4 linked regions of the Homo sapiens genome follow. The main gene of each other region encodes a partner of the protein of the gene in region 3 in a complex. Each region holds a gene or a part of one and is shown on either strand. Other genes may lie near its edges.

The links.
Region 1: WASHC5 (region 3) and WASHC1 share a complex: the UniProt entries of both Homo sapiens proteins name them as parts of the WASH core complex.
Region 2: WASHC5 (region 3) and WASHC4 share a complex: the UniProt entries of both Homo sapiens proteins name them as parts of the WASH core complex.
Region 4: WASHC5 (region 3) and WASHC3 share a complex: the UniProt entries of both Homo sapiens proteins name them as parts of the WASH core complex.

Annotation. Positions count from the first base shown.
Region 1 is NC_000009.12:26,425-34,265, forward strand, and holds the start of WASHC1 (WASH complex subunit 1), read right to left. Parts: upstream 3,033-7,841; 5' UTR 2,925-3,032; coding exon of another isoform or gene 2,888-2,924; intron 2,810-2,887; exon of another isoform or gene 1,232-2,809; coding exon of another isoform or gene 1,230-1,231; exon of another isoform or gene 1-1,229. UniProt on the Homo sapiens protein: Acts as a component of the WASH core complex that functions as a nucleation-promoting factor (NPF) at the surface of endosomes, where it recruits and activates the Arp2/3 complex to induce actin polymerization, playing a key role in the fission of tubules that serve as transport intermediates during endosome sorting.
Region 2 is NC_000012.12:105,166,731-105,169,668, forward strand, and holds the end of WASHC4 (WASH complex subunit 4), read left to right. Parts: intron 1-133; coding exon 134-201; 3' UTR 202-2,400; downstream 2,401-2,938. UniProt on the Homo sapiens protein: Acts as a component of the WASH core complex that functions as a nucleation-promoting factor (NPF) at the surface of endosomes, where it recruits and activates the Arp2/3 complex to induce actin polymerization, playing a key role in the fission of tubules that serve as transport intermediates during endosome sorting.
Region 3 is NC_000008.11:125,025,792-125,032,829, reverse strand, and holds part of WASHC5 (WASH complex subunit 5), read left to right. Parts: intron 1-435; coding exon 436-589; intron 590-4,122; coding exon 4,123-4,210; intron 4,211-7,038. UniProt on the Homo sapiens protein: Acts as a component of the WASH core complex that functions as a nucleation-promoting factor (NPF) at the surface of endosomes, where it recruits and activates the Arp2/3 complex to induce actin polymerization, playing a key role in the fission of tubules that serve as transport intermediates during endosome sorting.
Region 4 is NC_000012.12:102,051,992-102,059,029, forward strand, and holds part of WASHC3 (WASH complex subunit 3), read right to left. Parts: intron 1-7,038. UniProt on the Homo sapiens protein: Acts as a component of the WASH core complex that functions as a nucleation-promoting factor (NPF) at the surface of endosomes, where it recruits and activates the Arp2/3 complex to induce actin polymerization, playing a key role in the fission of tubules that serve as transport intermediates during endosome sorting.

The sequences.
Region 1 (7,841 bases), on a different chromosome or scaffold from region 3:
CCCTTCTTTGTATTTATACTGATGCAAGTTTGCTGGCTGTCCTAACTTATTTCTGTGCCTCAGTTCTCCCATATGTAAGATCACAAAGGGGGTAAAGATGCAAGATATTTCCTGTGCACATCTTCAGATGAATTTCTTGTTAGTGTGTGTGTGTTTGCTCACACATATGCGTGAAAGAAGAGTACATACACAGATCTCCTCAAAAAGGAGGCAGCAAGCCCGTTCAAGAATGGGACTGAATACACCTGATGAGTGGTTTACTTTCTGTCTGCAAACATCTACTGATCATCTGTTAGGTGCAGGCCATGATCACAACAAAGACGAATAAGACACTACACTAGCCAGGGAGAGTCTCAAAAACAACTAAACTCAAATTAAATTCATTCTACTCCAGTCATGGGTACAAAGCTAAGGAGTGACAAATCCCTCTTGGAGTTAGGGGAGTCAGGAAAAAGCTCTTAGCAGAATGTGTGCCTCTCGGCCGGGCGCAGCGGCTCACGCCTGTAATCCCAGCACTTTGGGAGGCGAAGGCAGGCAGATCACCTGAGGTCGGGAGTTCGAGACCAGTCTGACCAACATGGTGAAACTCCATCTCTACTAAAAATACAAAATTAGCCAGGCGTGGTGGTGCAGGCCTGTAATCCCCGCTACTCGGGAGGCTGAGGAAGGAGAATCACTTGAACCGGGAAGGTGGAGGTTGCAGTGTGCCAAGATCGCGCCATGGCACTCCAGCCTAGGCAACGAGGGTGAACCAGGTCCAGGAAGAAGGTGCAAAGACAGCATTCCAGGTAAAAGAAACAGCTTGAACAAAAAGTGTGTAGGGGAACCGCAAGCGGTCTTGAGTGCTGAGGGTACAATCATCCTTGGGGAAGTACTAGAAGAAAGAATGATAAACAGAGGCCAGTTTGTTAAAAACACTCAAAATTAAAGCTAGGAGTTTGGACTTGTGGCAGGAATGAAATCCTTAGACCTGTGCTGTCCAATATGGTAGCCACCAGGCACATGCAGCCACTGAGCACTTGAAATGTGGATAGTCTGAATTGAGATGTGCCATAAGTGTAAAATATGCACCAAATTTCAAAGGCTAGAAAAAAAGAATGTAAAATATCTTATTATTTTATATTGATTACATGCTAAAATAACCATATTTGGGATATACTGGATTTTAAAAATATATCACTAATTTCATCTGTTTCTTTTTACTTTTAGAAATCACATATGTGACTTAAATATTTCTTTTCTTTTTCTTTCCTCTCACTCAGCGTCCTGTGATTCCAAAGAAATGAGTCTCTGCTGTTTTTGGGCAGCAGATATCCTAGAATGGACTCTGACCTAAGCATCAAAATTAATCATCATAACGTTATCATTTTATGGCCCCTTCTTCCTATATCTGGTAGCTTTTAAATGATGACCATGTAGATAATCTTTATTGTCCCTCTTTCAGCAGACGGTATTTTCTTATGCTACAGTATGACTGCTAATAATACCTACACATGTTAGAACCATTCTGACTCCTCAAGAATCTCATTTAACTCTTATTATCAGTGAATTTATCATCATCCCCTATTTTACATAAGGAAATGGGGTTAGAAAGACCAAATAACATTTTTTCAACATCAAAACACTAGCTTGAGATCAAGCCCAGACTTGGATCTGTCGTCTGAATTCCAAGCTTTTTGTTATTTATTGATATGTTTTGTTGTTTTCATGCAATAATGCAAATATTAGCCCAAACATTTTGTTAGTAGTACCAACTGTAAGTCACCTTATCTTCATACTTTGTCTTTATGTAAACCTAAATTAGATCTGTTTTTGATACTGAGGGAAAAACAAGGGAATCTAACACTAACCAGCCCGTAGTGTGTGGTCAACACTTTCGTTACTTTAGTATACATCACCCCAATTGTTTGTCTTCACCACACACTTTGGAGTTAGGTAGTAGTATCTATTTTTACAAATAAGAAAACCCAGGCACAAAGGGGTTGATTAGCAATTATCTTTTGAAAAGCCTGTAGTTGCTCATCTGAAGAAGTGACGGACCACCTCTTATTTAGTGGACAGACAGTAACTAGTTGAGAAGACAGGGGATTTTGTTGGCGGAAAAAAAATTTTATCAAAAGTCGTCTTCTATCAGGGAGTTTTATGAGAAACCCTAGCTCCTCAGTTCCACAGTGGGTAACTGTAATTCATTCTAGGTCTGCGATATTTCCTGCCTATCCATTTTGTTAACTCTTCAATGCATTCCACAAATACCTAAGTATTCTTTAATAATGGTGGGTTTTTTTTTTTTTTTGCATCTATGAAGTTTTTTCAAATTCTTTTTAAGTGACAAAACTTGTACATGTGTATCGCTCAATATTTCTAGTCGACAGCACTGCTTTCGAGAATGTAAACCGTGCACTCCCAGGAAAATGCAGACACAGCACGCCTCTTTGGGACCGCGGTTTATACTTTCGAAGTGCTCGGAGCCCTTCCTCCAGACCGTTCTCCCACACCCCGCTCCAGGGTCTCTCCCGGAGTTACAAGCCTCGCTGTAGGCCCCGGGAACCCAAAGCGGTGTCAGAGAAGTGGGGTCCCCTACGAGGGACCAGGAGCTCCGGGCGGGCAGCAGCTGCGGAAGAGCCGCGCGAGGCTTCCCAGAACCCGGCAGGGGCGGGAAGACGCAGGAGTGGGGAGGCGGAACCGGGACCCCGCAGAGCCCGGGTCCCTGCGCCCCACAAGCCTTGGCTTCCCTGCTAGGGCCGGGCAAGGCCGGGTGCAGGGCGCGGCTCCAGGGAGGAAGCTCCGGGGCGAGCCCAAGACGCCTCCCCGAGCGCGGCTCCAGGACCCCGTCGACCCGGAGCGCTGTCCTGTCGGGCCGAGTCGCGGGCCTGGGCACGGAACTCACGCTCACTCCGAGCTCCCGACGTGCACACGGCTCCCATCCGTTGTCTTCCGAGCGTCAGGCCGCCCCTACCCGTGCTTTCTGCTCTGCAGACCCTCTTCCTAGACCTCCGTCCTTTGTCCCATCGCTGCCTTCCCCTCAAGCTCAGGGCCAAGCTGTCCGCCAACCTCGGCTCCTCCGGGCAGCCCTCGCCCGGGGTGCGCCCCGGGGCAGGACCCCCAGCCCACGCCCAGGGCCCGCCCCTGCCCTCCAGCCCTACGCCTTGACCCGCTTTCCTGCGTCTCTCAGCCTACCTGACCTTGTCTTTACCTCTGTGGGCAGCTCCCTTGTGATCTGCTTAGTTCCCACCCCCCTTTAAGAATTCAATAGAGAAGCCAGACGCAAAACTACAGATATCGTATGAGTCCAGTTTTGTGAAGTGCCTAGAATAGTCAAAATTCACAGAGACAGAAGCAGTGGTCGCCAGGAATGGGGAAGCAAGGCGGAGTTGGGCAGCTCGTGTTCAATGGGTAGAGTTTCAGGCTGGGGTGATGGAAGGGTGCTGGAAATGAGTGGTAGTGATGGCGGCACAACGGTGTGAATCTACTTAATCCCACTGAACTGTATGCTGAAAAATGGTTTAGACGGTGAATTTTAGGTTATGTATGTTTTACCACAATTTTTAAAAAGCTAGTGAAAAGCTGGTAAAAAGAAAGAAAAGAGGCTTTTTTAAAAAGTTAAATATATAAAAAGAGCATCATCAGTCCAAAGTCCAGCAGTTGTCCCTCCTGGAATCCGTTGGCTTGCCTCCGGCATTTTTGGCCCTTGCCTTTTAGGGTTGCCAGATTAAAAGACAGGATGCCCAGCTAGTTTGAATTTTAGATAAACAACGAATAATTTCGTAGCATAAATATGTCCCAAGCTTAGTTTGGGACATACTTATGCTAAAAAACATTATTGGTTGTTTATCTGAGATTCAGAATTAAGCATTTTATATTTTATTTGCTGCCTCTGGCCACCCTACTCTCTTCCTAACACTCTCTCCCTCTCCCAGTTTTGTCCGCCTTCCCTGCCTCCTCTTCTGGGGGAGTTAGATCGAGTTGTAACAAGAACATGCCACTGTCTCGCTGGCTGCAGCGTGTGGTCCCCTTACCAGAGGTAAAGAAGAGATGGATCTCCACTCATGTTGTAGACAGAATGTTTATGTCCTCTCCAAATGCTTATGTTGAAACCCTAACCCCTAATGTGATGGTATGTGGAGATGGGCCTTTGGTAGGTAATTACGGTTAGATGAGGTCATGGGGTGGGGCCCTCATTATAGATCTGGTAAGAAAAGAGAGCATTGTCTCTGTGTCTCCCTCTCTCTCTCTCTCTCTCTCTCTCTCTCATTTCTCTCTATCTCATTTCTCTCTCTCTCTCTATCTCATTTTTCTCTCTCTCTCTTTCTCTCCTCTGTCTTTTCCCACCAAGTGAGGATGCGAAGAGAAGGTGGCTGTCTGCAAACCAGGAAGAGAGCCCTCACCAGGAACCTGTCCAGCTGCCACCTTGAACTTGGACTTCCAAGCCTCCAGAACTGTGAGGGATAAATGTATGATTTTAAAGTCGCCCAGTGTGTGGTATTTTGTTTTGACTAATACAACCTGAAAACATTTTCCCCTCACTCCACCTGAGCAATATCTGAGTGGCTTAAGGTACTCAGGACACAACAAAGGAGAAATGTCCCATGCACAACGTGCACCCATGCCTGGGTAAAGCAGCCTGGCACAGAGGGAAGCACACAGGCTCAGGGATCTGCTATTCATTCTTTGTGTGACCCTGGGCAAGCCATGAATGGAGCTTCAGTCACCCCATTTGTAATGGGATTTAATTGTGCTTGCCCTGCCTCCTTTTGAGGGCTGTAGAGAAAAGATGTCAAAGTATTTTGTAATCTGGCTGGGCGTGGTGGCTCATGCCTGTAATCCTAGCACTTTGGTAGGCTGACGCGAGAGGACTGCTTGAGCCCAAGAGTTTGAGATCAGCCTGGGCAATATTGTGAGATTCCATCTCTACAAAAATAAAATAAAATAGCCAGTCATGGTGTCACACACCTGTAGTCCCAGCTACATGGGAGGCTGAGGCGGGAGGATCACTTGAGCTTGGGAGATCGAGGCTGCAGTGAGCTATGATTGTACCACTGCACTCCAGGCTGGGCGACAGAGAGAGACCCTGTCTCAGAAAAAAAAAAAAAAGTACTTTGTAATCTGTAAGGTTTATTTCAACACACACAAAAAAAGTGTATATGCTCCACGATGCCTGTGAATATACACACACACCACATCATATACCAAGCCTGGCTGTGTCTTCTCACAAATGCACTGCTAGGCACCACCCCCAGTTCTAGAATCACACCAGCCAGTTCACCCTCCAGATGGTTCACCCTCAACTTCATAAAAGTTCCCTACCTAATCTACTGACAGGCTCATCCCCGACCTAATTTTAAAGATTTCCTAGGAGCTGCAATGGGAATCCTGGACCTCAGCCTGGACAAAGAACAGCTGCAGGTCATTCTCATGTGTGGACACAGAAGCTCTGCCTGCCTTTGCTGGCCAGCTGGGCTGAGCGGGCCTGGGAATTAAGGCTGCAGGGTTGGTCCCAGGCAGTCTTGCTGAAGCTTGCCACATCCCCCAGCCTCCTGGATTTGCCAGGATCCAAGAGCATGGACTTTAGGAATTCCTGGTGGAGGAGTGAAGAAAATGTGACAGGGTGTCCTAAGCCCCGATCTACAGGAAGAAAACTGGAAATAAGACTGAGGACTTAGTTTAAGATGTTCCTACTCAGCCTCTAGCTTTTGTGCTACAGTTCTGGGAACAGACTCCTCTCTCCTGAAAACCACTTCCCTCCGCAGCATTAAATTTCACCAAGATGTCTTGCTTGTGGGAAAGACTTCCAAGGATGCCTGGAGAGAGGAGGATGGAAATGTCCTGCTCTCTAAACAGATAGACAGATGCAGCCAGACAGAAAATAGTTTATCTTGCTGAGGTTTCTAATGTATTTGAAAGAGGCCTGGGTCTAGAAGTCTACCCAGAGGGCTCTGTGTTGTGCACGCAAAGATAAGAACCTTCCCTGTGGGAGTTCCAGAGCCAATTTTCCTAAACACCCATCGGTGACTGTGTTCAGAGTGAGTTCACACCATCCTGACCTGCCCTGAGTTAGACCTTACATGGTCTTCCTCCTCTAGGAAGCCTCTGCAGCCCAGGAACCTCCCCTTATCGGAAATGAACAGCATTTGAAGCTTCACCCGACAGACCAGACAGCTTAGCCCTCGTGTTGTGCCATGTGGGTTGTTCTCTGAGAGGCAGGAGAGCATAGTGGTTACTAGGAAGGGAAGGACTTTGGGACTAGACTGCCTCGGCTGGAGTCCTCTTTCTGCTTCATAGCCACGTGATCCTAGGCATGTTACCTGTGCCTCAGTTTTCACTCTGTCAATATGTAATAACTGAATCTGTCTTTGTGGTGAGGATTCAGTGAGTTAACATATTTGAAGTGCTTAAAAATGAGGCTTGTGTCCATAGATTAATGAGTGAATACACAAATGGTGATATGGACATACAGTGGAGTATTAGTCATAAAAAGGAAGGCAGAGCTGATCCATGGCACCATGTGACAGAACCTCAAAAGCATTAGGTTAAGTGGAAGAAGCCAGACACAGGTCACCTATTGTGTAATTCCATTTATAGGAAATATACAGAATATGTAAATCCGTGGAGAAAGAAAGCCGATTTCCAGGGGCTAAGGGGAGGGGAGAATGGGAAGTGGCTGCTTCATGGGTACAAGGTTTCATTTTGAGCTGATGAAAATGTTTTGGAACTACATAGAGATAGTGTTGGCACAACATGGTGAATGTACTGAATGCCACTGATTGTTCACTTTAAAATGGCCAAACTTATATGAATTTCACCTCCATTAAAAAAAAAAAAAAAGGACCAGATGTGGTTGCTCACACCCATAATCCCAACACTTTGGAAAAAGGTGAAAGTTTTTTTTTCTTTTTTTTTTTTATATACTTAAGTTCTAGGGTACATGTGCATAATGTGCAGGTTGGATACATAGATATGCGTGTGCCATGTTGGTTTGCTGCACCCATCAACTTGTCATTTACATTAGGTATTTCTTCTAATGCTATCCCTCCCCCAGCCCCCCACCCACTGACAGGCCCCAGTGTATGATGTTCTCTGCCCCATGTCCAAGCGTTCTCATTGTTCAATTCCCACCTGTGAGTGAGAACATGCAGTGTTTGGTTTTCTGTCTTTGTGATAGTTTGCTCAGAATGATGGTTTCCAGCTTCATCCATGTCCCTGCAAAGGACATGAACTCATCCTTTTTAATGGCTGCATAGTATCCCATGGTATATATGTGCCACATTCTCTTAATCCAGTCTGTCATTGATGGACATTTGGGTTGGTTCAAAGTCTTTGCTATTGTGAATACTGCCACAATAAACATACATGTGCATGTGTCTTTATAGTAGCACGATTTATAATCCTTTGGGTATATACCCTAAGACCTGGGACGCATTTAAAGCAGTGTGTAAAGAGACATTTATAGCACTAAATGCCCACAAGAGACCTCTGCCTGAGAACGTGGGTTTCAGCCTAAGAGTTGTAATATGTGTGCCCATTCACAGGTGCTGCATCAGAGTCCCAGGTGGGAAGAAGGCAAGCATACACAAAAATGGTAAAAGGCAGAAAGGAGCCCAGTCTCGTTCTTTTTAAGAAGTTTTCCTAAGAATCTCCACCCAGCGACTTGCTCTCACATCTTCTTGGCCAGCACTGGACCACACAACTCCTTCTAGATACAGAGGAGTCCTAGGATTCTATGAGAAAGAAGGGGAGGGTGGGCAAAGGGCAGCCAGCTGTGCAGCATCTGCTGGAGACACCTAACCCTTGGTGGAGGGGTTGTGGTGCTGGGAGAAGGCTTTCTGGACGGTGTGACAGCAGAG
Region 2 (2,938 bases), on a different chromosome or scaffold from region 3:
AGAGAAACATTTGATGGATGCAACTGTAATTTGAAGTTTGGCAATACAGCTCTTCTCAAATTTCTTTTACTTCTTAATTTATTGTTTAAAAATGAACATAAATATCCATTATTATTTTCACTCATGCTTTCAGAAGAAACTAAAACAAGCAATGGAGACCTGTCTGACAGCACTGTGTCTGCTGATCCTGTTGTGAAATGATACGGATGGTATTCACTGCACATATGATGAAATCATCAGAATTGTTAAAACTTTTGCCAGTGGAATGGATAAACTATTGATGAATTGTTTCCTGGGTCACATCTCTGGAAAATAGATGTTACAGTTCTTAAAGGCAGTGCTTTAAAGTGAAGTTCATTCTGTTTCCAAAGGCTCTACTTTCAAAGGTTAAGAATGAGATTTTAAAATTGGATTTTTGCCTGGACTTGAGGGTACAAGATGTTTCTATTTGAAGTGAAGTTATAAAAGGGCAAATCCAGATTCATAAACTATCACCTCGGATTTCTTGTAATCTACATGTTTGTAATTTGTATTTGCATAGATCTTTGATCTATAGTTATTTCAAGTCATGGGAAATTCAATGCATATACTATATACAGCCAGTAAATACATGCTTAACAAAAGGAATGAGCCTGAAGTTCATAAAGAATACATATCAATATTCTTATAAAAGGAATATATGAAGATGGCTTTGATACTAGAGGTGAGGCACAAGTGTTTTATGTACTCTCAGTGTACAGTATAACTGATGATCCTTCTTTCATTGTTAATTTCATGTGACTCACAAGAGCTGCTGATGTCTTTGATGAGACATTTTATAACTAGTTTACATTGCTTTGAGAACATTTAACCTCCAACAGCTGCTTTAAATTTAAGATTTACTTAATACTCAGAAAATTCAGATAAAGCCATAGAGTCCTGTTTGAAGCTTCACTTCTATTTTGGTTGAAGGCATGATGTATGATGTCAGAAAAAAAATTGAATGAATTATTTCTACATCCAAACTCAGGTTTCTTCTACATTAGATTGAATTGAAATTTTGGTGATGGTTTGGGTAGACTTTTTTTTTATATCAAGTATAATTTAAAACATCAGATTAAATAATTACACTGTTCAGGCTTTTAAAAAAATACCACTGTGAGAATAAAGCGCTAGCAAGATACATCACTTACTGATTTTAAAAATACAGAAAGATTTTGAGTAAATTTTGTGCCCAGCAAGCTGTTAGTTTTATTTTTGTAAAGGTATGTAAGTTATTAAATGGTTAATCATGGCCTTTTAAAAATAAAATAAAGTGATACCTTTACAATGAAGACAAAAGTTTAAAACTTTCTAATACAAACACCATTTTGGGAAATGCTTGATTTTTTTCTATTGCATTTGTCTGCTAAACATTTCTTTGGATAAATCCTGCAAATACTTCTAACATTATTCTTTGATTCCAGCTTTTAGAATGGGTGTACAATGCCCTGTTTGTACTTACTGGTTAGGGTCAGGGTAACTTGCCAGCCCAAGATAAATACTTTAATTGTTAAAAGTCAGAAGAGACAGAATATGTAGGAAATGTTTTTTGTTTATTATGTAAACATGGCTTACAGAATTATGAACAGTGGATAGATTAAAGGCATTTAATATTTGTAATTCATAATAACTGTAGAAATGGCCCTAAAGCATGCTGCATAATTAATAATTTATATTTTCATTATTATAAGTGTTTATATTAATGATCTTGCATTTGATTATATCAAATTCGTCATTTCATAGCAACAGTATTGTTTTCTCTGTTTTTCTTCTCTAACTTCTCTGAAATCATCTCCTATTAAGGGATAGAAATTGTTACTAGAAGAGAATCACATGTTCTGTGTTCATTATCCCTACACATGTAAATTAATTATTTTATCAATACTAGATAGAGTTCACATGCTGACTCCCTGGATACCTACAGTTGAGAAGAAAATGACAGACAATTATTTTTCCTTTAGGTCAAAATAATGTCACTGCTATCTGGATAAATTATAAGTTCATATATTTGAAATAAGATCCTGGAAACGAATTTAAATGGTGTCAAACTGCAGAGCAACAGGGCTTCAGTATATTCACATCTAATAGGTTAATATGTACATTTGGATGATGATTTTTCTTGATAACATTAACATTAATTTTATTTTTTCAGACATACTGTAATTTAAAAATTAATGTGAGCGTTTGTTTTAAGTTCACAGAAAACTTAATAATTCAAATTCTCAGGAATTAAGGACTCACCATAACATTGTCAGTTCTAATGAAATTTTGTAAAAGATGGCAAGTTTGTTACCTCACTTGAGTGGGGTTTTCCTTTTCCCCCAATTCTAAGAGAATATAATGTGTATACTAAAACATTAATAAACATAATTTTGAAAATTTCCTTCCCCTGGATGTTTATGTTCAAAATTGAATGTCGTAAACCAGTAGTTCTTAATATTAACCTTTTTGGGGTCCCCCTTAATTGAATGAAATGAAATCTGTGGAATCATTTTTTTATAAAATGCATGCACATAGGTAAAAATTTGAAGTTTAAAATTGGCTCCTGTCAATGTATTCCAGGTGAAAGAAAGGTGTTTTCTTTCCTTTATACATCCTTGATCTTTCCAGAGCTTTTTTCCAATAAAAAGAACCAATATGAAGTTACTTTAAATCCTAATCCTGGAAAGGGATTATCAGTATGCATTGTTTAATGTTAGTAATAACTATAGTGCTATTTGCAAACCTGAGTTGAACTAAAACAATACAGTAGTCTCCCCTTATCCGTGTTTTACTTTCCAGTTTCAGTTACCTGTGGTCAGCTGTGGTCTGAAAATATTACATGGAAAATTCCAGAAACAATAAGTTTCAACTTGTGTGTTATTCTGGGTAGCATGATGAAATCTTGTGCTGTCATGCTGCATCCCGCCTGGGACGT
Region 3 (7,038 bases):
CTCAACATTTGTTTAAAGATACCCTAAAAGTATTTTATCCAGCTTTTCACTTAAGATAGTAGTTCAGGGTATCTAGTATGTCATGCTGCCGTTAACAGAAGTCAGTTGTAGTGATTTTTTTTCTCATTTACATTTATCTGTATCTTTAAAAATTGCTACAATAATATATGTTAATTGAGTAATTCAAAAGAACCAGTAATGATAATTACAAAATTTAGTAACCGTTTTATTGGTTTTGAATCCTTCAGACCCCTGGAATGCCCTACCAATCCTGTGGCTAATTCAAAATATGGCCCAGAATTGTCATTCCCTCCAAAATATCATCTGCCAGCGAGAATATGGGCCCCAAACATTTTGACCTTCACAGCGTTGGTATTTAATGAATGTTGCTGAAGGCAAGTACTTCATATGGTGTTGCAACTTGTTCCCTTGCAGGAATGGTCTGCCGAAAACCGACCGACCCGGTTGATTGGCCACCACTTGTCCTGGGACTGCTCACTCTGCTGAAGCAGTTCCATTCCCGGTACACCGAGCAGTTCCTGGCGCTGATTGGCCAGTTTATCTGCTCCACGGTGGAGCAGTGTACAAGGTACAGAAGACCAACCAGGACTACGTGGGACTTCTTGTCACAAAACCTAACTTAAACCTCACATTACCAAATTCCTCTTATCGCCCTAATAGAGATGGGAAATGGTTGCTCACCCTTCTCTGTAAAGCAAGTCAGGGCATACCTCCTTGTTTAGAGCAATTACAGGTGTGTCCATCCTTAGTCACCCTGCCAGGGGAACTCCATCCGGTCTACTCACATTGATTTTCCAGGAGTGACTCAGGACCATGAATAGTAACTACCATGGGGAAGAAAGTGCAGCCCTGTTCCTCTGCACTCTTGGATGCAGCTCTTCAATCTCAGCGAGCCCCTGCACTCCTGCTGGGCCACTGCCAAGAGATGATTCCACTCACTTCAGTGGGAGTCAGAGAACATATCAGTGTGTCAAAGCCTGGGCAGTGTCTGCATGTAGAGAAGCAAATTTCACAAGAGTTGCTATTTGATACAATGCTTATAAAACTTTAATTCCTGCCAGTTCTTTTCCCCTGCCCCTAAATGTGGCTTTTCTGGGATAAAGAAAAAAAAGTTATTTCCATGAGATGCTGGGTCCTGTGCCTCCTTCTCTGCTATCCTAAAGGGTCAGCCTGGCTACATAACCTTTGCTGTCATGTTTGCTTGGTCATTTTTGCCACTATAATGTAAAAAACGAATCAAAGCGGCTGGGCACAGTGGCTCAAGCCTGTAATCCCAACACTTTGGGTAGATTACTTGAGGTCAGGAGTTCAGGACCAGCCTGGCCAACATGGTGAAACCCCATCTCTACTAAAAAAACACAAAAATTAACCACATGTAGTGGTGGCCACCTGTAATCCCAGCTACTCAGGAGGCTGAGGCAGGAGGATTGCTTGAACCCAGGAGGCCTCAGAGGTGCAGTGAGCTGAGATCATGCCACTGCACTCCAGCCTGGGTGACAGAGCGAGACTCCATCTCAAAAAAAATAAAACGAACCAAAGTGATCTTCTAAGTCCACACAAAATACTACTAAGTCCTAAAACTGGAAATGATTTTCGAGGTCATTTAATTGACCTCCCACTAAGTGCATGAATGAGCTCTAGGACATCCTTGACAGGTAGTCATGCAGCCACTGCTGGAACACTCTCACCGAGGGGGCTTGTGCTACCTCTCCAGGCAGCACAGTCCACTGGCTAAGTCTTGTTCTCATTAGAAAGTTCCTGATTGTGATTATTAGAACCTGTGTCTCTGGATGTTTCACTCGCTGAGCTTTTTCCTACCTTTTGAAATCATACAGAATAATGCAGTCTCCCTCCTTTGCAACATCACTTCCGATTTTGTATGCCATCTGTTGTCTTAGGTCTTCTCAATGTTTAGATAAGCCCCTTCCACCTGTTCCCGATGTCTTGCAGTTTAGAGGCTGCTCACCATAGTGAGTGACTTTTTCTGGGTGTTCCAGTCTGTTTTTGACCATCTTAAAATGTGGCTTCCCAAACTTGTATTGAGATTCCAAGCACAGCCCTCCCCTTGGCACAGAGGAGTATTACACGTCTTCATTCTGGGCCCTCTGTGGACAGTACAGCAGCTACAATTGCAGTGATGAGTCCTTTTTTTTTTTTTTTTTTTTTTTTTTATGAGAAAGAGTCGCTCTGTCGCCCAGGTTGGAGTGCAGTGGCGTGATCTCGGCTTTGCAGTGATGGGTTTCTTGACATCCAGTGCATACCAGTGGCTCCTACTGATTTTGCATTCTTTCTAAACCCCAATGTCGTTATTTCCCGTGAGCTGCAGTCAGGCCAGCTCCTCCTCCTCTTAGTTAATGAATCGAACAACAAACACTGGTGTTTTCCTGGGATAGATGTTAAGACTTGCTTCAGAAACAAGATTTTTTAACAATTGAAAAATAGAGGAGAACTCAAAGTCTCAAAAATGAAATTGTAACAATCACGAAGTGAGGTCAGTTGGCAAGGAAAGCAGTAGGCTCATAAAAACCCAGCGCCTCTGGCCCAGGCTCCCAGAGAGGAGGGGAAGGACTCCAGTTCAGGTGGTGCGGAGGTGATTAGCAAGTAACCTCCACACAACTGGCTGTCCCAATTGTAGCTCCCTAGCTGTCAACTTGGACAGGTTCTTCTTCCTCTCTTTCTTTTTCACTAATGGCAGTAAAGGCTTAAGTGTGGCTCTAGTCCAGCATGTTATTGGCAACCCTGAGGGTGGTGATCAGGCTACAGGAGACCAGCTGTAAGTCAGGCTTTCTGATTCAGCAGAGCAAAGGAATCTAAGGAACCTGTGACGCATGGGAATTCCTTCCTTTCTCTTGCTCCAAGCAGAGCAAATATAGCCCTGGTCACAGATTGAAAGATTGAGAGCAGGGAGAATTTTTCCAGGTACAGTCATTCTTAACCCATTCAAAAAGCAAAGTTCATCAGCGAAATTAACCAGTAATGTATTAATAGTACTAAAAGTTATTTGTTAATCAGAAAATGCCAATTGGTACAGGAATTGGAAATCGTTTTAACACCTAAAAACTCCTTTTGATGTAAACAAGAAGGAACGTTAGCTCTATAAGGAGCCTGGCATGTACTTTGCTGTATTCCCAGCTCTGGAACAGTGCTTGGCACTGTAGTTGCTGAATGAATGAATACATGAGTAAAATCCCATATGAAAAATTGCTAGATGCTGTATTTATTTGATACCGTCAAATATGCAGTACATGCCAAGCACATTTCCAGATGCTGGAGAAACAAAGATGAACATATGACCTAGGCCCTCGAGGAGTTTATACTCCTGATGGGAACCCAGCACACCATTGAAAAATTAAGAGGCTTGGAGAATGCTGCTAACTATTATGACAGCCCAGGAGAATCAGGGAGGATTCCACAGGAGAAGTACCCAAGCTGAGACTCGAACAATGTCTAGAAGTTTACTTTCAAATCAGTGTGCAGGCCAGGTGCGGTGGCTCACGCCTGTAATCCCAACACTTTGGGAGGCCAGGGCGGGTGGATCACCTGAGGTCAGGAGTTCAAGACCAGCCTGGCCAACATGGTGAAACCCCGTCTCTACTAAAAATACAAAAAATTAGCCAGGCATGCTGGCGTGCATCTGTAATCCCAGCCAGTCGGGAGGCTGAGGCTGGAGAATCACTTGAACCCGGGAGGCGGAGGTTGCAGTGAGCCGAGATCATACCACTGCACTCCAGCCTGGCTACAAGAGTGAAAAGTCTGTCGCAAAAAAAAAAAAAAAAAAGTGTGCAGGGATGGGAAAGTATGGGACCTGCTAGGTATTGAATCATGTAAACAGAGGGAGATGAGTCTGGATAGATAGCAGGGATCGTGTTGTAAACGCCCATGGAAACCGTATAGAGAAGCTCACATTTACCCTATGGGGTGGGCTCCTGAAAATACATGAGCAAGGTAACAACTTGACAGGAATTAAGAGCATGCTCAATGTTTTTGTTCATCTTTGACTTCATTAGGTAATCTGTTGGTAATTTAGTCTTTCAGGATTCTGACCAAAAGGGCTTATGATGTGCAAAGCAGTTAATTGATCTAAACTGTTCTCTATCACAGCCAGAAGATACCTGAAATTCCTGCAGATGTTGTGGGTGCCCTTCTGTTCCTGGAGGATTATGTTCGGTACACAAAGCTACCCAGGAGGGTAAGTGATAGATAGTAAAGAACAATATTAATAGTTGTAAAAAGATGCTAATAATAGTGGCCCTGGATTCATCAGGAGTGAAGCCCAATAGGTCGTTCACAGTAGATGCCTCTGCGCCTCTCGCCACTGCTCTACCCCCAGCTCTGAAATGTCCTTGCCTTTTCCACCATGGGAATTGCCTTGCAGAGTTTAACACAATGCCCCTCCCGCCTCTTCTTCCTCTCCACCATGTACTCCTGTCAGCAACTCATCTGGTTCAGGAGTTAAGTGAAATAGGCAAGCCAGGAGGGATTCCTTAAGTGGCCAGAGGAAAGAAATAATCATGGTGGTTTGTTCTTTCTCTCTCCACTGACCTGGTTCCCACAGCAAGCACAGTTAAGTTCATGCCACAACTAAATGTATATATGAGCACTGTTTCCAAAAATGGCAGACTACTTTTTACCTGCCAAGACATTCTTTCCTATCCCTTTCTCATTAGTAATTCCACTTTGTTAAATTTTAGCTCAAAGTGGAGAGCTTGATACTGAAAAATACAACTTTCAGCAGATACTGAAAATCATTTGATTTTTAGAAATTAGTAGGTTAGGAATCAAAGATACTTTCTTACAACATGAGCCAAAGATGAACTTTTAAAATTAACTAGCAATGTCAGTACATAATAGTGAAATGTTAGTGGCATTCCCATTAAAGCCAGGACTGTCACAGTGTCATGACAACTATACAGACTCTTGCAACTACTTTTGTTATACAGGTGCAAGACAATAAGAAATGAAATGAAAATAAAATGCATATTGGAAAGAAGACAAACTCTGTATTATTTGAGATTAATTGTCTTCCTTTTTTATTCTATTTTTCCATAAGTTATTGGGATACAGGTGGTATTTGGTTACATGAGTAAGTTCTTTAGTGGTGATTTGTGAGATTTTGATGCACCCATCACCTGAGCAGTATACACTGCACCATATTTGTAGTATTTTATCCTCACTCCCCTCCCATTCTTCCCTCCAAGTCCCCAAAGTCCATTGTATAATTCTTATGCCTTTGCGTCCTCATAGCTTAGCTCCCACATATCAGTAGGAATATACGATGTTTGGTTTTCCATTCCTGAGTTACTTCACTTGTAAGAATAATCTCCAGTCTCATCCGGGTCACTGCAAATGCTGTTAATTCATTCTTTTTTATGGCTGCGTAGCATTCCATCGTATGTATATATCACAATTTCTTTATCCACTCATTGATTGATGGACACTTAGGTTGGTTCCACGATTTTGCAATTGTAAATTGTACTGCTGTAAACATGCATGTGCAGGTATCTTTTTTGAATAATGACTTCTTTTCCTCTGGGTAGTTACCCAGTAGTGGGATTGCTGCATAACTGTCTTCCTTGAATACCCAATAGAATCATGTGAAAAACTATCAAAATAATACAGAGATCAGAAAACAAGCTGGCTACAGAATAAATGTATGAAATACATCAATCGATTAAAAAATACAGTGTGAAAAAGGACCTATTCACAGAAATAACAAGGCAATGATATAGCTAAGAATAACCTCTATAAGAAATATGAAAGAACACTTTATTAAAAAACTATAAAAATTTTAAATATAAAATTTGAAAGTCCATGTTTCTGAATGAGGGTCCTCGAATATTACAGAGATAATAGTTCTATCTAGTTTATAGGTTTACTGCAGTTACAATCAAGATTTCAGGTACTTTTTTAACTTCAAAGAATATATTTTTTAAAATGTCATAGGACTTAGGCAAGTCCTTTTTTAAAAAAAAGATATTAAAATATTATATCAAGTATTAAAACACTGTAAAACTGTAGAAACCAAAATAGGGTGCTACTGGTATGCAACTAAATAGAAGGAACAATGAGCAAGAATATGTAGCCTAGAAACACACCCTGTGCATACAATGGTACATAAGGAAAAGTAGCATCTCAAATTAAGAGAGAAAGGGAATATTAGTCAATAGATGTAAGTTCACACAGTTAAAAAAATAGCAACTTAGTCCCCTTTACATCTCCTATGTTATCAAAATTAATTACAGATAAAGGGTTAGTGTGAAATATGAAACAAATAAATTAGCCGAAATTTTAGGCAAATATGTATCAGCTCTCAGAAATTCCTAAGTATAAAACCAAAAGAAGAAACTATAAAGAAAAAGATTTAGAGACTTGATTTTTTATAAATGCTGAATGTAATTAATTCTGTGTCAGTGTCTCAGTTAAAAAACAAAAGACAAAAGAGGAAATACCAACAAAGGACTAGTTTCTTGATTTATAGTGTGCTCTTCAAATCTTCAAGTTCAGTATGAAAAAGATGTCCAAGCCAATAGAAAAAAAGCAGGGGAAGGGCAAAGGAAATTAAGAGGCAGTTTTCAAGAAAATAGAAATGACAAACCTTCGGATTCAAGGGACAAAAATCCAAATACGAAAATTACTGTTTCCACTTATCAGGTTGGTGAAAGGTAAAATGTTGGGCCCCCATTATTCGGAAGCATTTGGAGAAATGGGACTTGTAAGTGCTATTAATTGGAATGTAAATTGACAGCCTTTGAGGAGGGCAATTTAGCTTTATCTATTTTAAAAAAACATTTGTAATATACTTACCCTGATCCCAGCAATTCCACTGCTAGGAATTTTACCTGCTGGATATATGTGCAAAGGTTTACCAAGATATGTGCCCAAGGATGTTCATAATATAAGATTTAGCAGAGGTAGAGAAGGACACAATATTATGTGATCCTAATTTTGATTGTGTGTGTGTGTGTGTGTGTGTGTCTGTCTGCATATGTAAGTAAACTGGAAAAATTCATTACAAAA
Region 4 (7,038 bases), on a different chromosome or scaffold from region 3:
ATCATACATAAAGGAGAAAAAGGTGGGACAACAGCAAGATGGGGGAATAGGACTTTCCAGCACTGATCCTCCCACAGAAACATCCATTTGAAAAACTATTCACGCACGAAAATACATTCTCAAGAGCTAAGGAGACCAGGTGAGAAATTACAGCACTGGGTTTAGCACAAAAGTAAGAAAAAACACACTGAAGAGGGTAAGAAGGACAGTTTTACAGAACTCATGTCACCCTTCCCCCAACTCCAGGCAGCACAGCATGGAGAGAGATACCCTCCAGGTGGGCGAAGGAGAGGCAGTGAGCACAGGACTTTGCCTTGGACCACAACACCAGGCCCACCCCAGCAGAACTCAGTGCTGAGCAAGCCCCCTCAGCCCAGACTCCAGGCTGACACCTGCAGGCGAAGCCTTTAGGCCCATCCTGGCACTAGGCTGGATCACCCAGTCCTGAGTTCTAGGCTTGTCCCACTGGGACCGTAGGTTCCAGACCAGCTCAAGGCTCAGGACAGTCCCAGCACCAGGCAAGACTGCATAGATTGTCTCCAGGTCTGCTCTAGGGACAGGCCAGCCCCAGTGGCCCTAGGTTCTGGACCAATCCCAGCACAGGGCTAGCCTCCATGGGCCCAAGGTTCAGGCCCACCCCAGCACCAGGTCAGCTCCTGCAGATATAGGTTCCAGGCCTGACCAGTGCCAAGTCAGCTCCTGTGGCCCCAGTCTGGCTCCTGCAGCCCATACCCTAGTGGAAGTAGGGTTTAGGCCCATCCCAGTAGGCCCTTCTGTTGGGCTGACACCCATAAACACAGGCTCCAGGACCATCCCTGTGGACTCAAGTTCCAGGCTAGCCACTATTGCCGTAGGACCCAGGCCAGCCCCATGTAGCCCAAGTTACCAGGCCAGCACCTATAATCTCAGGCTCCAGTCTGGCCCCTGTGACCCCAGGCTGCACACTTGCCCCAGCACCAAGCTGGCCCCAGACAAATCCCTGTGGTGAGTCAGGGTCTAGGTATGTTCCAGCAGACCCAGAGTCTGGGACCACCCCAGTAGATTGCATTGCCAGATTGGCCCCCATGGACGGAGGCTGCAGGACCACTCCTGCAGACTCAGGCTCCAGGCTAGTCACAGTACAACCAGGACCCAGGCCCACCCCCACATACTCTGGCTCCAGGTCCACCCCAGGGGTTCCAAGCACCAGGCCCACCTTGGAACCTGGCCAGACACTGCAGACTCAGGCTCAAGGCTCACCCCAGTGCCAGACCAACCCCTGCAGACTTAGGCTTCAAGTTGGAACCCTAAGGATCCAGGCCCACCCCTATAGAGCTAATCAGCAGGTCCACCCCAGTGGATCAGGCTCCAGGAACAACCCTACGAACCTAGGCACCAGGCCAGCCTACCCAAGGACTCCAGCAGCAAGCCTGCCATGCACCACAACAGATGGCCTGTCTAGAACCTCTGGATGAGCTTACTGGTGAAGGGCTTTCCCAGACAAAGCCAGTCTGCAAAGACTGGAGTAAGTCCTTACTTCTTCAAACACACACATACCAACACATGGCCACAAAGACCAAGAATAATCAGAGAAACACGTCACTACTAAAGAAACAAATCACCAGTAACTGACCCTTCTTCACAACGAATCCAAAATTATTGTTTTAGGGAAACTCAGTGGACTTCAGGAAAATTCAGAGAAACAATTCAATGAAATCAAGAAAATAATAAATGACCAAAATGAGAAATGTAACAGAAAGATTGGAATTATTATTTAAAAAATCAAACAGAAATTTTAGAGCTGAAAAAAAAATGTATACAGTCAAATTCAGAATATTCTAATACTGTCATGGTGATTAAATCACTTATATCTTTAGTATGAAAGTTAACAGACAAAACTATTAAAAATAATAATAGCTACAATAACTTGTTAAGGGATATGCAGTATAAAAAGATATACGTTGCAAAATCAAAAGCAAAATGTGGAGAGGTGGAGTAAAAGTGCAGAGGTTTTTTATGTTATCAATTATGTTATTATCAGTTTAAAATAGCCTGTTATAACATGTTTTATGTCAGCCTCATGGGAACAACAAAGCAAAAACCTAATAGTAAATACACAAAAGATGAAAAGTAAGGAATCAAAGTATATCACTAGAGACAATCATCTAATCACAAAAGACAGCAAGAGTGGAAGAAAGGAACAAAAGATCTATAAAGCAACTAGAAAACAATGAACAAAATCGCAGCAGTAAGTCCTTATCTATCAATAATTACCCTGAATGTAAATGGACTAAATTCTCTGATCAAAAGACACAGATTGACTGAATAGATACAAAAATAAGACCCAACTACCTGCTGTGTACAAGAGACTCACTTCACCTTTAAAAAATGGACACACATAGATTGAAGTGAAAGAATGGAAAAGAGCTCAGCACAGTGGCTCACATTTGTAATCCCAGCACTTTGGGATGCCAAGGCGGGAGGATCCCCTGAACTCAGGAGTTTGAGACTAGCCTGGGCAACATGGTGAGACGCCGTCTCTACAAACACCATGGACATATCATCCAGGCAGAAAATCAATAATGAAACACTGGCCCTAACAGACATATGTAGAAAATTCAATAAAACAGCAACAGAATACACATTCTTCTCAAGGGCACACAAAACATTCTCCAGGTTATATGATATGCCACAAAACAAATTTTAATACATTTAAGGAGACTGAAATCGTATCAAGTATCTTTTCTGACCATATTGGTTTGAAACCAGAAATCAATAATAGAAGGAATCTTGAAAAAAATCATAAATAACTGGAAATTAAATAACATGCTCCTAAACAACCAATAGGTCAAGTAAATTAAAAACGAAATTAAAAGTATTTTGAGACAAATGAAAATGGACATACAACACATCAATACTTATGGGAGGTGGCAAAAGCAGTTTTAAGAGGAAAGGAAGCTTCGGCAGTAAAGACCTATAACAAAAAAGATGAAAGATCCAAAGTGTAACATCCTAGTGTTACAACTGAAGGAATAGAAGAACAAATAAAACCCAAAGTTAGTAGAAGGAAAAAAATAATAATGATCGGAACAGAAAAAAATGAAAGAGACTAGAAAAACAATAGAAAAGATCAATGAAACTAAGAGCTGGATTTTTGAAAAGAAAAACAAAATCCACAAACTTTTAGCTAGATTAAGAAAAGGAGAAGATTCAAATAATATCAGAAACGAAAGAGATGTTACAACTGATACCACAGAAATACAAAGAATTGGCTTTTTCAGCCACAGAGCTCAATGCAGCTCAGTGACGTTATAAATGCTAATGAACTTAAGGTCTGATGTGTGTTTGAAAGAATCAGCGAAGCTTTTCTTTTTTCTTTTGTTTTGTTTTTTTGAGATGGAGTCTTGCTCTGTCACCCAGGCTGGAGTGCAATGGCGCAATCTTGGCTCACTGCAACCTCCACCTCCCAGGTTCAAGTGATTCTCCTGCCTCAGCCTCCCAAGTAGGTGGGAATACAGGTGTGCACCACCACGCCCAGTTAATTTTTGTATTTTTAGTAGAGACAGCATTCCACCATGTTGGCCAGGCTGGTCTCGAACTCTTAGCCTCAGGTGATCTGCCCACCTGGGCCCAAAGTGCTGGGATTACAGGTGTGGGCCACCGTGCCCCACCCATCAAAGCTTTTCAAGTAGATAAGAAGTATCTGAATATGGGACCACTGATATATTCAGAACAGAAGTTTTTGCTTTCTTTGTTTCTTTCATGGTGGTAGCTGGGGTGAATTTTTAGATGGTCCCAATTTTCTACAGGAATGTTTAGATGAGAATTTTTTGTTTCTGTCCTGTGGTTGAGTTGGTGCCACAGAGAATTTCCATAAAATTCAATTCCATTATTTAAAATAGTTTTTTTTAACTAGTTTTTCTATCAACCAGCCCCAGTCTGAAACTTGACACAGTGTTAACACAAAAGAGCAAGTACTTAATCTTCGTTCACATACTCTACCTACAAAGACATGACCTACAGTAGTTCTTCAAGCAGGTCAGTTTTAGGAGACGTTAATTCTATCTAACTAGACTAGCTATTTCACAACTATGTAAGACAACTTTATAAACTTTGCTTTAACTTACAAAGGTCATTTAATAATCCCATTGTTTTGACGATTCTAAAGATTGTAAGTTTATTTTTACAGTCTACTCTTAAATATTACTGTTGAGGCATATATATGGCAATGGTGGACTTAATTCTGCCTAAGATATCTGAGCATCTGTAGTAAAATATGAAGCTACCTTCATTTGGTTGATATGCTAAAGACATTTTTAAAAGTATCTCATTTTTTAAAAACTTGGTTTGTGTGTTTTGTATGCTCAGGAATTTTTCCACAGTACTGGAGACCATTGCAGTGATTAAATTTGGCCCTTTTGACAGAAAACAGAACAATGCATTCCTAGGGATAAAAAAGGGGTGACTGCAAAGGAGCATGAGGGAATTTTTGGAGTGATTCTATATCTTGTTCTACAACTATTCTACATCTTGATTATGGTATGATTATGCATTTGTCCAATCTCATACTTAATGGTAAATTTTACTGCATATAAGTTCATACTCCAATAAACATGACTTTACAATTAAAACAAAAGAAATATGAAGGCTCATAAGAGATTGCTATGACCAATTATATGCCAACAGATTGGATAACCTAGAATGGATAAGTTCCTAGACACATACAACCTATCAAGACTAAATCATAAAGAAATAGGTAATCTGAACAGACCAATAATAAGTAGAGAGATCAAATCAGTAGTTAAGTCTCCCACTAAACAAAACCCCCAGGACTTGATGCCTTCACTACTGAATTCTACCAAACATTTAAAGAAGAACTAATACAAATCCTTCTCAAACTCTTCCAAAATACTGAAGAGGAGGGGAAACTTTCGAACTCAATTTAGGAGGCCAGCATTATCCTGATTCCAAAGCCAGACAAATCCACTACAAGAAAAGAAAATCAAAGGTCAATATCCCCAGTGAACATAGAAGCAAAAATCCTCTACAAAATACTGGCAAGCTGAATACAACAGCGCATTAAAAAGGTCATTCACCAGGATCAAGTCAGATTTATCCCTGGGATACAAGGATGGTTCAACATATGCAAATCAGTAAAGGTGATACATCACATTAACAGAATGAAAGACAAAAACCGTATGATCATCTCAATAGATGGAACAAAGGCATTTGACAAAATTCAACATCCTTTGATGATAAAAACTCTCAACAAATTAGGTATAGAAAGAATCTAGCTCAACACAATGAAGGCCATTTATGACAAGCCCACAGCTAGCATCATACGCAATGGTGAAAACTGAAAGTTTTTCCTCTAAGATGAGGGACAAGACAAGGATATTCACTCTTACCCCTTCTATTCAACATAGTACTAGAAGTCCTAGCTATAGTAATTAGACAAGAGGGAAAAATAAAAGGCATTGAAATTGGAAAAAAGGAAATGAAATTGTTTCTGTTCGCAGATGGCATGCTCTTATATATTGAAAATCTTATAAAAAATTCCACCAAAAAATTGTTAGAACTAACAAACTACTTTGGTAAAGCTGCAGGATATAAAATCAACATACAAAAATCAGTAGCATTTCTATACACTAAAAGTAAACTATCTGAAAAAAAAGAAAAAAAATCTCATTTACAATAGCTACAAAAAAAATACATAGGGGTAAATTTAACCAGTGAGGTGAAAGATCTGTACACTGAAAACTATAACACATTGATGAAAAAAATTGAAGAAGACACAAATAAATGGAAAGATAACGTGTGTTCATGGATTGGAAACATGAATGTTGTTACAAGGTTGACACCACTCAAAGCAATCTACAGACTCAATGCAATCCCTATCAATTTTCCAATAATATTTTCACAGTAATAGAAAAAAAAATCCTAAAATTCATACTGAACCACAAAAGACCCTGAACAGGCAATGCAATATTAAGCCAAAAAAACAAAGCCAGAGAGATCACACTCTCTGATTTGAAAATCTACCACAAAGCTACAGTAATCAAAACAGCCATAGACCAAGGAAACAGAATAAAGAGCCCAGAAATAAATCCATGCATTTAAAGTCAATTGATTTTTGAGAAAGATGTTAAGAACACAGAAAAGACAGTTACAGAAACATACTTTTCACAGATGTTAAGAATAACAGTCTCAATAAATCATTTTGGGACAACTGGATATCCACATGCAGAATGAAATTAGACCCTCATCCTTTACCATATAAAAAAATTTAACACGAAAAGGATTCAAGATTTAAATGTAAGACCTGAAACTGTAAAACTACTAGAAGAAAACATAAGGGGAAAGTTGCACGACATTGGTCTGGGCAATGACTTTTTTTGGATATAAACCCCAAAGCACTGGTAACAAAACCAAAAATAAATAAATGGGATTACATCACACTAAGAAGTTTGTAGAATCTGGATTTTAAATTATTTTTTAAAAATTATTTTAAAAGACTACGAAGCTTTTGCACAGCCAACGAAACCATCAATAGAGTGAAGAGAACCTATGGAATGGGAGACTATATTTGGAAACCATATATGTGATGAAGGGAACCTCTGTACACTGTTGGTGGGAATGTAAATTAGTACAGCTATTATAGAAAATAGTACAGAGGTTCCACAAAAAATTAAAAATAGAACTACTATATGATCCAGCAATCCCACTTCTGGGTATATATCCAAAGGATGTAAAATTAGTACATTCAAGAGACATCTGTACTTGAAAGTTCACTGCAACATTATTCACAATAGCCAAGATACGGAATCAAAAGTGTCCATCAATGGATGAATGGATTAAAAAAAGTGGTATATATACACAATGGAATACTATTTAGCCTTAAAAAAGAATGAAATCCTGTCATTTGTGACAACATAAATGAACTGGAAGACATTGTGTTAAATGAAATAAGCCAGTCAAACAGAGACAGATACTGAATGATCTCACTTATATATGGAGGATAAAAAAGTACAACTCATAGAAATATTGAGTAGAATGGTG